Linked DNA regions of Homo sapiens: region 2 is linked to region 1. A link means that fine-mapping ties the variant in region 1 to the expression of a gene that starts in the linked region. Tissue or cell type: whole blood. Region 1 holds a variant in brackets; the other region holds the start of a gene. All regions are shown on one strand. Distances are between the middles of the regions.

Region 1 (8,105 bases):
CAAGCATCTTCCTGTTTTTAGCCCCAGCCTACCCCTGCCTCTAGAATAGCTTATGTCTCCAGCTCCTGAGTCTTTGGGGAGTTCTGCAGTGAGACTTAACTAATGTCTTGCTAGCTCATCCCTTCCCTTCTGTAGGGATTTAAGAGTTAGCTTTCTTCATCTCCCAGGTGCTCTGCTGTCCTTTTATGCTCCCTTTGTCCTTATAGATTTGTACCTTTTTTCCTTTTGCCAATATTTTAGTGGAGTCATGGAAGAAATCACATGTAAAATTATATGCTCAATCCCTCATGTTTGACCAGAAAAACTCCACTGTGGCAGCCACTCCTAATTGGTGCTGACAAAATAAAAAATAATAATTCTAAATCACTGTGATTGTTAATCTGAGTTTACTGCTGGGCAAAGCAGGGAAAATATGATCCAACACAGAGAAATTCAGTCCTGTGGGTTGGGGCCAAAAATAACTCAGAGGCAATTAGCCTAAGCCTTGCAGGTTTCATCATTCATAAACAGGCAGGCACCAAGCCTACCTTCTTGGGCTAAAGTTAGGGTTAGGGTTAGGGCTAAGACTAGGGCTAGGGCTAGAGTTAGGGTTAGAGATAAGGCTAATGTTAGGGCTAGGGCTAGGGTCATGGTTAGGATCAGAGTTAATCCTGAGTGTACATAAAGCCCAGGAACCCTGTGTAGACACTCTCGCCAACTAAAGACAAGAGCAAGATTTGTAAATGCAAAAGCCATAAAGTTCCCAAGAAGGTGAGGCTGTCTGATTTAAACAATGTACTATCTTCTTAGTTTCAGACTGACCTGTAATAAATCTCAGCTCAAGTCATTTGTTGAACTTTTATGTCTATTTTTGTTTTTTTCAAACTGTGTGGTCAACATCAGATTCATTAGATTGAATGCAAATAAGGCATCTGTCTGAGTCACAGACATGAAGCAGTCACAAGTTTACCACCAGGCTGTTTCTCTGCTGATTCTGATGAGTCTTCTGAGAAGCAGTTGCTCTAGTTTTCATTTCTATGGTCCTGATCTTGCAATCTCTCACATTCTCCATGCTCAAGGTCTTGCCTAGAGATAAGTCTGCAAGCCCATGTCCAAGACCTATCAAAAATTGTCTTTATTGCTACTAGATATCCATCCCCACTTCTTCCTTACTTACAGAAAAGCAATATTTTTGAGTATCTGGCAGCAATATTCCAAGCTGAAAATTATATGTTCCAGCCTCCCTTACAGGTGTCCCTGAGATCTGGCCAGCGAAGCCCAAGTGAAAGTTGCCTGTGGATTTTCTAGGACTGTTTTATTTTCCTAACATGAAACTTATCTCTTCTTTTGCATATTCTTCTTTTTCTGCTGCCTGGCGCTCCACTCAGCAAATGGTCAGTTAATGAGTACCTGCCATTCTTCCAAGCTATGGCGATATAGCAGTAAGCAAATATCCTTGCCCTTGTTGTGTGTACATTCTAGTGGACCATCTTGCAGTAAGAAGGAAAGCAAATAGAATCACAATCAGCCTCAGCTTTGACATTTCAAAGCACCTGAACCAAAGATGGGAACTTACTTGAGAAAAATAAAATCTCATTTAGTCATATTTTCAGTTACTTGCAACTGGACACAATTACTAAACATACTACTGCCTTTTTTGTTGGTGGGTGGGGGGTCGGGGGGACGGAGTCTTGCTCTTTGTCACTCAGGCTGGAGAGCAGTTGCACGATCTCAGCTCACTGCAACCTCGGCCTCCCAGGTTCAAGCAATCCACCTGCCTCAGCCTCCTGAGTAGCTGGGATTACAGGCACCCACCACCATGCCCAGCTAATTTTTGTATTATTAGTAGAGATGGGGTTTCACCATGTTCGCCGGGCTGGTCTTGAGCTCCTTACCTTAAGCGATCCACCTGCCTCAGCCTCCCAAAGTGCTGGGAATACAGGTGTGAGCCACTGCACGCAGCTGCCTTTCTTTCTTTAACTACAGGTAAGTTCCTTTATAGTTAAGATATCTGGAAGACACCTTGATGGAATAAAATGGTTTCTCAACCTCAACACTCTTGACATTTTGAACCAGATAATTCTTTGTTGTGGAGCTGTCCTAGGCACTGTAAGATGTTTGGCTGCATTCCTGACATCTACCAACCAGATGCCAGTAGCCGCATCCCCCTCCCAAGATATGACAATCAGAATGTCTCTAGACATTGTCAAGTGTTCCCTGAAAGCCAGATTTTCCCTGGTTGAGAACCACTCGCATATGGATGGTGGTGCTGGCAGAGCTAAGGCAAGCAACAAAAGCCAACCCAAACCCAGAGTATTTGGAAACAAAGCATTACTTCCTCCATCGTGGAAAGAATCCAATACAGCTAATCTACCTCTGGGGAGCTGGCTGCCCTTCCCCCCACCCTCCAGTTATCACAGCATTCCAAGAGCTCAGGGCCACTTGGCCACTGCTGCCAACAGTCCCTGCACTCCACCACAGCAGGTCAGACTTGGTGAGAGGAAAAGGGTTGTTGAGTACAGGCACAGCCTCCCTTCCTGCCACCACACTCACTTTGTGAGCACTGAGGTATCTGGGATACCCCAATTTTTGTGAGCATTGGGATATCTGGGAAAGGAGTCTAACATCTCACAGAGTGGGCCATCCATCCTACTTACGTAGTCACAAAGGCCCCCTCTGTATCAAGGCCTTGTGGCAAGCATTCATGTGGGCCACAAATAGCTCCTCACTTCACATTTACCTGAGAGGTCAGTTCACAGACACCTTCACAGGCCTCCTCAGCCATTTCCCAGTCTTGCTTCTTCCAAACCCTTAACCATCAGAGCGTGTCTTTGTCTATTTGGGCTGCTATAAAAACCAAATACCTGAGACTGAGGGGCTCATAACAACAGAAATTTATTTCTTCCAATTCTGGAGATTGGGAAGTTCAAGATCAGGTGCCAGCACGGTCAGGTTCTGGTGAGGGCCTGCCCCTGGATTGCAGACTGCCAGCTTCTTGCTGTGTCCTCACATGGTGGAAGGGACAAGGCAGCTCTCTGGGGTCTCTTTTATTATAAGGGCATTAATCTCACTCATGAGGACTTCACCCTTGTGACCTAACTACCTCTAAAAGGCCCCACCTTCTAATACCACCACCTTGGGGGTTAGGATTTCAGCATGTGGATTTGCAGGAGACACAAATATTCAGACCAGAGTACAGCCCAATTGCAAGTCAGGGGTTATTTCCTTTTTTTTTTTTTTTTTTAAAAAAAAGAAAAAAGTTCTTTGCTGAAAGAGGTGACTTTCCTCCAAAATCCTAGCAAGCCAATTTGTCCCATGCAGCTTACAAAATTTGCTGGGTCTTAAGAGCCTAGCTGCAGAGCCAATCAACTTAAAAGCTTTTACCCCCTGGAGATGCTTTCCCCTGGCCCAGCTCTCATCAAACCTGGTGGCTTTTCAGATCACCCAGTAAATAGGTCAAATAGGTGTTAAATGTTATTCATAGTGATTTACTAGGAACTACATCAGGATGAGTAGTGTGGTGTGTGTGAAAGTTAATTTTATTCAGCCTCTTAGGGCTAGCTGATTGGCATAAAGAATATTAGAAATAACTTTCACTAGAGAAATTAAAGTTTAAGACACGGTTTACTTCGAAACCACCAATGTGATGATTGATGCAGGTTAGGATTATCAATGGGTGCTAAATCAGTCTCAGAGTATCACCCCACAGGTCGCTTTTTAATAACAAAGAGAAAAAGATACCTAATGGAAATAAAATCTGGCAGACATCAACTTAATTATGTAAACAAATTAATACCACCAGTAATGGGGAAAAAATGACATTTTGTGTCTCCTACATGAGAAGAACACATTATCTGTGTAGAGTTCTTGCCAAAAATATCTAGCCTAAATCTAATCATAGGGAAAAATTCGAGAAGTTTAAATTATAGAGCATTATGCAAAAACACTGGTCTGGACTCTTCAGAACTTTCAGTATTCCAAAATAAAAGTTTTAAAAATCTAGATTAAAATTAAATTTAAAAACTAATGGACACGATAACTAAATGCAATGAATAATCCCTGATTGGACCTTAGATTCAAAATAAATAGATATATTATTTTATTATTAAAACAATTGGGAAAATTTGAATTTGAGTATAGACTGCATATTAAATTTCTTAAACATGATCATGTAATTGTGGTTATGTAAGAGAATGGCCTTCTTCTTAGCAGCTAGTATTTAAGGTGAAGTGTTTAAGGGTAAAGCATCATAATGTTCCAACTACTTTCAAGTAGTTTGGAAAAAGATACATAAGCATAAACTCACATGTTCATCAACAGATGAATGGATAAAGAAAACGTGGTATATGCATTAAAATGGAGTATTACGCAGCCTTTAAAAAGAAGGAAATCCCTGTCACATTCAACATGCATAAACCTTGAGGACATTATGCTAAGTTATATAAGCTAGTCACAAAAGCACAAATACAGCACTTTTCCACTCACATGAGATATCTAAAGTAGTCAAAATTATAAAAACAGAAAGTAAGAAAGTGGTTGCCAAGGACGGGGAGAGTGGAGAAGGAGAATTAGTTTGTTTCTGGCCATCAAGTTTCAGTTTTGCAAAATGAAAAAGTTCTAGAGATCTGTTGCACAACAATGTGAATATACTTCACACTATTGAACTGGACACAAAAATAGTTAAGATAGTAAATTTAATGTGATACGTTTATAACCACAATTAAAAATAAAATAAAAATTTAAAAATATAGACCCATATATGTTCATGACTTATGTATGTGTGTAGGTAAATATATGTATATATTATTTCTTAGAAAGAAAAGTAGGCAAAGCAAATGTGGGAAAATGT[T/C]AATAACTGTGAATCTGGAGAGAAGATATGTGGGTATTTTTATATTATCCTTTCCCTTTTTCTAAAAAAGGAAGTGGGGGCTAATCTGTGATTCACTTAGAATTGTGTAACAAGGCTCATGGCCCTTCCATGAATAACGTATTTTTTTAAATTAAGGCAAGCCCAACAGTTTACATGGGGAGAGGATGCTTGGGCTAAAGTCACTTGGGCCCATTTCTCTACTTTTTGGAGGAGTTTGCCCATCCTGCTGTAAGCGGGTATCTGCTTTAGAACGAGATTTTCATTACAGTGCTGGTCAGCGTGGCTGACCACACAAGCAGAGCCCCCTTCCAAACTCCAGACCAGCTGTTCATGCCTGCGAGCCAAGAAAGGACTGTACAGTTGCTGGCATTTGGTCTGAGACTTGCTCTCATACCAACACTCCGGCAGCAGCAAGCTTGTGTGGGTGGAGATGCATAAGGCCTGCACTCGCACCTGCTTCTAACACCACTCACCGAAAATAATCCGACACTCACGTCATGTCGTTTGGCAACAACAGGGCACCAACTGTGGAATGTGCGCCTCTCCAACCCAAACAGGCATACAGTGATGTAATGCGGGGTGAAGGAAGCAAGTTGCGGAACAGTATTTCGGAATGATACCATATGTGTTAGAAAGCAAAAAGGGAGGAGTGGAGAAAGAAAAGGAGGCAGGGGAGAAAAGAAGGGAGAGGGAGAGGAAAAGAAAGGTAGAAAAGAAAAGCAAAAGGAAGGAAAGAAAAAAAAACAAAAACAAAACCCCTGTCTGTGGATGTCTGTATGTATATATATCATATATATGTTATATGTAATATATAATATATGTAATAGATATGTTATATATGTAACATATATGTTATATATGATATATATACACACACATTTAAAATCTGAAAAAACATATATCAAACTATTAACAGTGGTTATTCTTAGAGTGTTTGAAGGTAAGGATAAGATTTTCACTATTTTACTTCTTTTTCTTGTATATTGTATAAATTTTCTGAATTAGTCCATCTTAATTTGAAATTTTCTTTTAATTTAATTTTTAAATTTTCTTTTAATTAAGAAAAATTAAAGCAAAGGACTATTTAGGGGAGGGATCTTTCTCCTTGAAGGAAAGGGGCTGCTGCTGTCACTTTGAAGTAAATAAAGACAAAGTGCAGTCTAGATCAGAGGCCCATACACTGTGGTTAGTGGACCACACATGGCCTGCCCCTATTTTTATAAACAAATTTGCATTGGAACATAGCAGCCTCCCTCATGCTATCAACAACGAAGTTCTATAGTTGTGACAAGACTAGATAGCCTGCAAAGTCAAAAATGTGTATTATCTGGCCCTTTACAAAAGACATTAGCCAATCCCAGTTCTAGATTTATATTTACCTCTGAGATGGAGTTATCTATAAGAATACCAACTCCATTAGAACACCAACTCATAAATTCAAACTCTCAGAGGAAGGAGTAAAAGGTAAAGGCTAAATTTATTTTGTAAACTCTAAAAGTTGAAATCACAAATGCGCCTCATTATAAAGACCTTTTTTTTTTTTTTTTTTTTTGAGACAGTCTTGCTCTGTCACTCCAGCTGGAATGCGGAGGCATGATCTCGGCTCACTGCAGCCTCCACCTCCCGGGTTCAAGCCATTCTCCTGCCTCAGCCTCCCAAGTGGCTGGGACTACAGGCACCCGCCACCATGCCTGGCTAATTTTTGTATTTTTAGTAGAGATGAGGTTTTACCATGTTTGTCAGGCTTGTCTTGAACTCCTGACCTCAGGTGATCCACCCACCTCGGCCTCCCAAAGTGCTGGGATTACAGGCATGAGCCACTGCGCCCAGCCAAGACCTTCTTTATTCACCCAATGTGAGTACATCCTAACACAGTCCTGTCTGTCATTCTTGGTTGATTTTCTTCAAAGAATTTATCACTGATTGATACATTCTCATTTGTTTATACTGGCCTTTCTCATCACAACCTAAGAGCCATGAGAACAGGAATCATCTCATTCTTATTTGTCACTATATCCCCAATGCCTAGAACACAGCCTGGCACATAGTGAGTGCTCAATAACATTTGACGAATGAATGAATAAGTCATTCAATCAATCTATGATTCAGTGGCAAAATGTGTATATCAGGGTAAGGAGGGATGACGATGCACTCAACAGCAATAGGAAACAGACTCCAAAGGTAAAGACAAAGAGCAGTCAGTGAACAGTCCATGAACATCTTTGAAGATGAACTAAAATGCTTAGTAATTGTGTACATGTGGCTTCTATTTTTCAGTTGAATTCAAAAATAACATAGAGAGAAATGAAAGAAATGTCTGCCTGGGGGAAGAGACTGCAATGAGATGCAGCAGCGTCAGGGCTGGGGTGGAGGTGCTTTATTATGACTTCTTTGTTTAAGGCAGGTCTCAGGGTCATCACCTCAAGGGCAAGGTGGAAAGATGTGGGGAATTCAAGCATGTTCCTTTTTGAGGTTCAGGCACAGTCAGTGGCTCAGAGGAGGAAGGAAGTGGCTGAGGGTCCAAGCTGGAAATCCTTCCCTTTCTCTTGTTTTTTGTTTGTTTGTTTGTTTGTTTGTTTGATCATAAAGCTACCTACCAGGTGGGACCCATCAAATCTTCAAGCACAGCCCACTCCCCTCAGCATACACAGTGCAAAGAGGGCTATAAACTGAGGAACTGTGTCCAAGAGGAGCCGGTTCCTCTGGGGGAATCCCAGTCCTGGAGACATAAGAGGGGTACCACAGGGTCTCTCTTTTCCTTTACTCCATTCATCCCTCTGAGGGCAAATTGGATTATCAAATGCCTGGGGGTGAATTATCAACTACTTACAAGCGGTCCTCACACCCCACATTCTAGCTCCCTTCTGAAGGGAGTGGTCCTTCGTTTTTCCAGAGGAATAGATGACAGGCTGAGAGCCTGGAAACCTTGAAAGAAATGAGATTGTTTGCCCAAGAACACAGAGAAAAGAGATAAAGGAAATGTGAAACCTTTCCTCTTTGGAAAGAAAGCATATATGTCTCCTGGGAATTTTTATTAGGTTTTGCCATAGATCAAAACTACCTCCCCGGGACACAGACAGCTTTTCAGTCTCCCCAAGAAATTTTCAGTAAAATTGTCATTACTCATTAATCCTTGGTTGCACTGGATTTTTGGGAAATGATAACAAAGATCCTGCCTCAAGGTGGGTGTAGGGTCAAGAACAGAGACTACTCATGGTGCCCAGTCACATCTGAGTTACAAGAATAGCCTATTGTA
Region 2 (8,105 bases), 260 kb after region 1:
TTCATTTTGTTCTGTACTAAGATAAATTCTTCTGCCTTGGGATCCTGTTGATCGGTGACCTTACCCCCAACCCTGTGCTCTCTGAAACATGTGCTGTGTCCACTCAGGGTTAAATGGATTAAGGGCGGTGCAAGATGTGCTTTGTTAAACAGATGCTTGAAGGCAGCATGCTCGTTAAGAATCATCACCACTCCCTAATCTCAAGTACCCAGGGACACAAACACTGCGGAAGGCGGCAGGGTCCTCTGCCTAGGAAAACCAGAGACCTTTGTTCACTTGTTTATCTGCCAACCTTCCCTCCACTATTGTCCTATGACCCTGCCAAGTCCCCCTCTGCGAGAAACACCCAAGAATGATCAATAAAAGAAAAAAAAAAGAAAACAAATTCTAAGAGGTTATAAAAGGTTTATGGAAATTTTATCTTGTCTAGTCAAAGCTGATCAAGATTAGACAGATTTGTTTGTAAAGTTTATTAAAATCAGCTTTAGTATTAAAAGCACATTAATACATATATATTATATATAAAATATATTTTTTTAATTTTATTTATTTATTTATTTTGAGACAGAACTTTGCTCTTGTTGCCCAGGCTGGAGTGCAATGGCACGATCCTGGCTCACTGCAACCTCTGCCTCTCAGGTTCAAGTGATTCTCCTGCCTTAGCCTCCAGAGTAGCTGGGATTACAGGCACCCACCACCACACCCAGCTAATTTTTTGTATTTTTAGTAGAGACGGGGTTACACCATGTTGGCCAGGCTGGTCTCGAACTCCTGAGCTCAGGAAATCCACCCGCCTCAGCCTCCCAAAGTGCTGGGATTACAGATGTGAGCCACCATGCCTGGCCAAGTGTCTTATTTTCAAGGAGGATCATGGAAAGCATGGGAAGAATGCTGACAAATAAAGGTTTCTGATAACTTTGAAACTGTATCACCGGACTGGGTAAAAATTTCCAAAGTCTAATGAAAATAAAACTGGACTCATAAAATTGCTAACCTCCAGACTAATGTTTTCCATTTTTCACCCACTCTTCTGACTTAGAATCACTAAAAATTAAAACGGCCTTTTTTAGCTTGGCGCAGTGGCTCACACCTGTAAATCCCAGCTCCTTAGGAAGCCAAGTCAGGAGGATCCCTTGAGCTCAGGAGTTCAAGACCAGCCTGGGCAACATCAAGAGACCCCACCTTGAAAAAAAATTTTTAAAAATTAGCCAGGTGTGTAGTGCATGCCTTTGGTTCCAGCTACCTGGAAAGCTGAGGTGGCAGGATGGCTTTGCCCAGGAGGTTAAGACTACAGTGAGCCATGATCACATCACTGCACTCCAGCTTGGATGACAGAGCAAGACCTTGTCTCAAAAAAAAATCCAAAAAACTAAAAACCCTGCCTTTTTCCTAAGGCCTTACCAGCTAAAGCTAGTCAACGTGACTTTGAAAAAAAAATCACCACAAAAGCTTATATTTGGACAAACTTTACACACAACCTACAATCTAGGAAAATAGATTGCTATTAATCTTCCCAATTGACTGCCCTCCAGACTCTAAAGAAACTAGTTTATAGACTATACCAGATATTAAGCTTTGTTTGTCTTGTTCCATAGAAATGTCTCTCTTATTAAATACCTGTTTGCCTACATCATATACAGAGGCCTAGCTTTGAGAACTCATCTACAATGCCATCTTCTGAAATGAGACACAACAATTTAATTGAACTGGACTATCCCCCAAAATGAGAGGCTGGTTTAATGGGATCCTTTGCCGCTCAATTACTAGCCCGATTTCTCTCTCCACAGACACCAACTCAGCTTATAGTGAAACTTCTAAGGAAGTTTCAGACAAAGGAAATAAAGAAGACCAGGGACTCACACCCCAAAATATGGCATCCTGTATGCTAATCATTTTAAATTAAAGGTCCCTGGAAACCAGCAGATACTGGAAGCAGCTTTACTCTGATAACTACCTTATCTGCCTAAAGTCCAGACCTGTCAAAGAAGACAACAATTACTTCTGGTCTCTTCCCTGAGTTTTCATTAACTTACTTCAGTACAAGAAGAAAGATGGAAGCCTGTCAACACACCTGGACAGATTTTTGTCAGAAACCATTGTCTGCTCTGCAGGCCCAACAGTCATTGTCCCAGGCCACTGTATGTTCTCCAGGCCACTGAATCACCCTAAAAATCATTTACGATCCACCTTAAAATCACCCACATTTTCCCATCTCCCATATTCCTATGAAAGAGGGTATATAAGCATCTGTACCCCACTGGGTCATTCTCCTGCAATTCCCTCATGCTATGCACGTTAAAATAAAATTTCTATGCCTTTCTCCTATTAATGTGCCCTTTGTCGGTTGATTTTTCAACAAACCCTCAGAGAGCAAAGGGGAAGCTTTTCCTTGGCCCCTACATGCTATATGGCAGAAGGGAAAGTGCTTTAAGTTTATGTTCCGAGCAGTCCCTCCACCCATACCAAGGAAGCACAGCAAGGAGCTTGGGACACTTCCCAAAGAAATCCCAAAGATTTCTTTACAACGTATTTTTTACAATTCCTTTACAGTAGCCCCCAAATTTTATCCACTTTCGCATCTTCAGGATCAAGCAGAGTGCCTAGAGTGTACACTCTAGAAATGTTTATTGAATTAAGAAGCGGCTGACAGTGTTGTGCAGGTAGTGTGGCCAGAAGAGTAGTTTCAAGTCCCAGGCACTCATTAGTTGTATGACCTGGGGCAAGTCACCTAAATATACCGAGATCCATTTCTTCACCAATGAAACAGGAATATTACTACTTGCCTTGTCTACCTTACTGGCTCCTCAGGAGGCTTTACATAATGAGCGGCACTGTAAAACGTTATACACGTGTATGTACAGTTTTGATAGGGCTGTTAATTAGTCTCAATGGTGAAACAGAAAGAAACCTGGACTCAACAGTCAAAAGCTGTTGGGCCGTTGTGCATGGGCTACGACTAACATGTTCCGTTTTCCCATCTTAAACACAAAGTTTAGACTCGATGATGGTTCGGACCCTGCACTTAATAGTCTCTAAGTCCGCTACAGGCTCGGAACCTCAGGTGTCCTCAGAGAGGTAAACCCCAGGGTTCCCAGATACACCTGCAAGGGCAGGGACAGTCAAGGTCGCGGGGTACTAACACGCGGGAGGCTCACCCAGTCAAAGTCACACGGGTTACCGTCTTCGCGTTGGGTGGGCAGACCGTGGCAGAGCGGCGGCAGTTTCCTCACGAGTAGGAAGGCAGCAGAGAGCAGGGCCGACAGAAGGTAGTAAGGTTGGGCGAGCCATCGTGAAAGTCGCGGCACCGAATACACGAGAGCAATTAGAGGTGCCAAGACCGCCATCTTTTCGGCCGTAACGGCCACTGCTCGCCGGCGTCGTAGGTCTCGCCCCGCCTCCCCCACCATAACGACTGCTATTGGGCTATATCGCAAACGTACGGCCTCTAAACCCGGATGTAGTTCTCTGAACGCTGTGGTAGGTCAGAACCCAAAAAAGAACTTAATATTTTATTGGTTAGTCTAGTTGTCGCTTTATCCGCCTAAGTCATTTTATTGGACTGTAGCAAGCAGAGCTAGCAGAAGACTCTAATAAGGTTAAATAGCACTTCCTGAACGTTCTCATAAGGCGACGGAAGTAGTTGTTGAAAAAAGGTAGGCGGTGCCTGAGGCATCCAATGACAAGCGGCTCCTTGAGAAAGGGCGGGGGGGTACTCCTTGAAAGCATTGTCCAATGAAAATTACCAACGGCAGACACGGAGACAGCGCCGGGGCGGAGGGTACGATGGAGAATTTCACGGCACTGTTTGGGGCTCAGGCTGACCCACCACCGCCCCCAACCGCACTCGGCTTCGGACCAGGAAAGCCTCCACCCCCGCCACCGCCTCCTGCGGGCGGGGGACCCGGCACGGCCCCGCCTCCCACCGCGGCCACGGCTCCTCCTGGCGCGGACAAGTCAGGAGCTGGCTGTGGCCCTTTTTACCTCATGAGGGAACTGCCAGGTGAGTACTCGGCCTTGCCAAAGCCAGCCAATCAAATCTTAGAGAGGAGGTGATGGGCGTGGCTCTCAGCCGGCTAGCGGAGGTGCGAGGTAACCTAGGCAACGCATACCCGGACTGTGGAGCCCTAAGTCGGAAGCGCTGTTAGGATTCACAAGCAGAGGGATGACTTGAATTCAACCAGGATGAGTTGAATTCAACCAAAGGGATGAATGGCGGGCAGGGGCGTAGTGCATCTCCGTTACTGTCTTTTGCACCATGTCCAGGCTGTGTCCCTGACACTGGTTTATGTCTCTCTAAAAAATGACCTAGGGCTGGGCGCGGTGGCTCACGCCTGTAATCCCAACACTCTGGGAGGCGGAGGCGGGCGAATCACCTAAGGTCAGGAGTTCGAGACCGGCCTGGCCAACATGATGAAACCCTGTCTCCACAAAAAACACAAAAATTACCTGGGCGTGGTGGCGTATACCTTTAATTCCAGCTACTCGGGAGGCTGAGGCGGGAGAATCGTTTGAACCCCGGGAGGCGGAGGTTGCAGAGAGCCGACATTGCTCCACTGCACTCCAGCCTGGGCGAACGAGACTCCGTCTCAAAACAAACAAAATCCAGGGTTTGAGTTTGGAACTCGAGAGGCCTGATTTAATATCTTTGGGGACCCAAAGTTTTAGTTACAGGTCTCCCACAGACTTGCTATTGGTTTGGGGCAAGTTGCCATTCTTCCTTCTAAGGTTCCGGCATTTCCTGGTCTGATCAAAAAAGGGATAAGAATCGAACCAAACTCTTCATTCAAAAAATTATTTTGTTGAGTACCTATGTACCAAGCACTTTTCTAAATGCTGGAGACAGTTGTGAACAAGACTGACAAGATGCTTGCCTTTTTTGGGATGTACATTTCAGTGGAGGAGGCATTGTAAACAAGATAATGTCAGAAAGTGGTTAATGCTAGGAAAAGAAAACATGATAAAAATTGAAGGTGGCCAGGCGCGTTGCTCACGCCTGTAATCCCAGCGCTTTGGGAGGCCGAGGCAGAATCCCTTGAGCCCAGGAGTTTGAGACCAGCATGGGCAACATGGCGAGACCCAGTCTCTACAAAATATACAAGATTAACCGGGCGTGGTAATGCATGCCTGTAGCCCCAGCTACTCAGGAGGCTAAGGGAGGAGAATCGCTTGAACACAGGAGGTCGAGGCTGCAGTGAACCAAGATTGTGCCACTGCACTCCAGCCTGGGCAACAGATGAGACCCTGTCTCTTAAAAAAAAAAAATTGAGGGGCAGAACTACTTTAGCTAGAGTGGCCAGAGATGCTCTCTTCACATAGCTAACATTTGAACTAAAATGTAAGCATAGACAAAGGGCCAGCCATGTATGGACAGGAGGGAGAGACAATTGTAGATACAAGAAATGAGGTCAGAAACCCTGATGTGAGAAAAAGCTTAGAATATCTGAGGGACAGAAAATCAGTTGGACTCCAGTGAAGTGAACAAAAGGAAAGAGTGTTAGGGAGAGAGATGAAGCTGGGAGAGTTAGGCAGAGGCTTTTATAAAGCAGTAAAGGCATTTAGATTGTAAATACAAAAGGAAGCCATTTAAAAAATTTTTTTATAGACACAAGGTCTCACTGTGTCACCCAGGCTGGACTGCAGTGGTATAATCATAGCTCACTGTAACCTCCAGTTCCTAGGCTCATGCTGTCGTCCCACCTCAGCCTTCCAAGTAGCTAGGACTACAGGCATGCACCACCACAGTTGGCTAACTTAAAATTTTTTTGTAGAGACTGGGTCTTACTGTGTTGCGCAAGCTGGTCTTGAACTCCTGGCCAACAGCAGTCCTCCCGCCTTGGCCTCCCAAAGTGCTAGGATTATAGGTCTGAGCCACTGTGCCCAGCCAAGGAAAGCCATTTTAACATAGGAAGTTGGTCAAATGCACTTGTTTATAATCATTTAAGCAGCCACATGACAAATAGAAAGTGGGGAAATTAGTCAGAAGTTACTGCTCAGTAGTCCAGGAAAGATAATGGTTTGAACCAGAGCATAGCAGGGCATAGAGAAGTAAATGGATACAGGATGTTAGAGGTAGAGCTGACAGGGTTGAAAAATTGAATACAGGGCCAGGCGCTGTGGCTCACGCCAGTAATCCCAGCACTTTGGGAGGCTGAGGTGGGAGGATTGCTTGAGCCCAAAAGTTTGAGACCAGCCTGGGCAACATAATGAGACCCCATCTCTACAAAAAATAAAAATAAATTAGCTAGGGATAGCAGCATGCACCTGTAGTCTCAGCTACCTAGGAAGATGAGGTGGTAGAAATCACTTGAGCCCAGGAAGTTGAGGCTGCAGTGAGCCATGATTGTGCCACTGCACTCCAGCTTGGATGATAGAGGAAGACCCTGTCTCAATTAAAAATATATATTGTATATAGAAGTGAAGGAAATAGAGGAATTGATGCCTTTTTAAGTTTTCGGCTTGAATAATTGGGTGTATGGGTACGGAGACTTGGAAGATGAGGAAGGAACAAGTTTGAAGAGGTGGAAATCAAGAGTTATTTTGGACATGTTTGGTCTCCAAGATGCCTCTTTTTTTTTTTTTTTTAAACAGAGTTTTGCTCTTGTTGCCCAGGCTGGAGTGCAATGGCACAATCTCAGCTCACCACAACCTCCGCCTCCCAGGTTCAAGCGATTCTCCTGCCTCAGCCTCCCGAGTAGTTCGGATTACAGGCATGTGCCACCACACCCAGCTAATTTTTTATTTTTAGTGGAGACAGGGTTTCTCCCTGTTGGTCAGGCAGATCTCAAACTCCCAACCTCAGGTGATCCGCCCACCTTGGCCTCCCAGAGTGCCAGGATTACAGGCGTGAGCCACTGCGCCCAGCCTCCCAGATGCCTTTCATTGTCTCAAGTCTTATTTCCACATCATGACTTGAGGGAAATAGCAACAAATATTGGTATAGTACTTTGAAGTTCACAACACACTTACATGCAGTATTTAATATAAGTAGTATTTAATACTTAGAATAGCCCTTTGAGGTAGCATTACTGTCTACATTTTATAATTGAAAAAACTGAAACATGGAGAAGTTGACATCCCTTTGATTAGTTAGTGGTTGATGTCCACCAGCGGTTTCTTTTAATCTTTCTTTTGCCTTCCCTATTCTGATTGTAGCTATTTGTATCAGTCAGTTGACAGATATTGAATATATGTTCTGGGCAAATGCTGGGTGTATGAGGCGGGTGAGATGGAGAGAGAGATTAGTAATGCTGGTCATTGCTTTTCAAGGAGTTTAGTTAGGAATGTAAAATTTGTGGTTTAAGGATAGTGACTATATTTCCTGTCACCTCCATCTCATTTTGTGCTCATGCCTCACAACAGCAATTAACAATATCTTAGCCATCAATATTAAGAACTACCTAATGGTTTTCAAAGTGTGTTGCTATCCAGAATGACAGTGAGAATAAGATGTCACTTGAGCTAGACCTTGAATAATCCATATTGGTGAAGAAAAATTAGGAAGAATTTTCCTAAGATGAAATAATGTGAGGGGTGTTTTTTTGAGGCGATAAGGAGATCCATTTGGATGGATCAGAAATTTTGCATAGGAGAGTAGTGGTTGATGAGGCCCCAAAGCTAAGTTGGAGTAAGATGTAATTAGCCTTGAGTGCCAGTCAAAGGAATTTGAGCTTTCTCCTGAGGGCAAAAAGAAACCATTAAGATTTGTGAACTGAGGAGTACTGATTTCCAAAAATATCTGGAACATGTGGGTGCCATGGATTGAAATAGAGAAGCCCTGAGTGATGTTGGCAAGATTTGGAATTTCAAAACAATTTTTTTTTTTTTTATCTTGTTGGGCAGGGTGGTTCACGCCTGTAATCCTAGCACTTTGGGAGGCTGAGGCAGGCAGATAGCTTGAGTCCAGGAGTTCAAGACCAGCCTGGGCAACATAGGGAGACCCCTGTCTCTACAAAAAATACAAAAATTAGCCTAGCATGGCAGTGTATGCATGTAGTCCCAGCTACCTGGGAGGCTGAGGCAGGAAAGTAGTTTGAGCCCAGGATGCAGAGATTGCAGTGAGCTAAGATTGTGCCATTACACTCCAGCCTGGGTGACAGAGCGAGACT

Evidence for each region. PIP is the estimated chance that this variant, and not a neighbour inherited with it, causes the effect.
Region 2: it holds the start of MED19, and the variant in region 1 is fine-mapped to the expression of MED19 in whole blood (TOPMed, PIP above 0.99).

The regions. Positions count from the first base shown.
Region 1 is chr11:57,972,220-57,980,324 of GRCh38, reverse strand. No RefSeq gene overlaps it. Among named protein-coding and RNA genes, the nearest start is that of OR9Q1, 48 kb to the left of the region's middle. RefSeq lists a silencer at 1,254-1,548. The variant T/C (reference allele first, on the strand shown) is at 4,829.
Region 2 is chr11:57,707,858-57,715,962 of GRCh38, reverse strand. It overlaps MED19 (mediator complex subunit 19), which reads left to right and starts at 3,748. Exons shown (of 5, transcript NM_001317078.4): 1 at 3,748-4,000. The coding sequence starts at 3,784. It overlaps TMX2 (thioredoxin related transmembrane protein 2), which reads right to left and starts at 3,370. Exons shown (of 8, transcript NM_015959.4): 1 at 3,156-3,370. The coding sequence starts at 3,344. It overlaps TMX2-CTNND1 (TMX2-CTNND1 readthrough (NMD candidate)), which reads right to left and starts at 3,440. Exons shown (of 21, transcript NR_037646.1): 1 at 3,156-3,440. RefSeq lists an enhancer at 1-410 and a silencer at 3,778-4,117.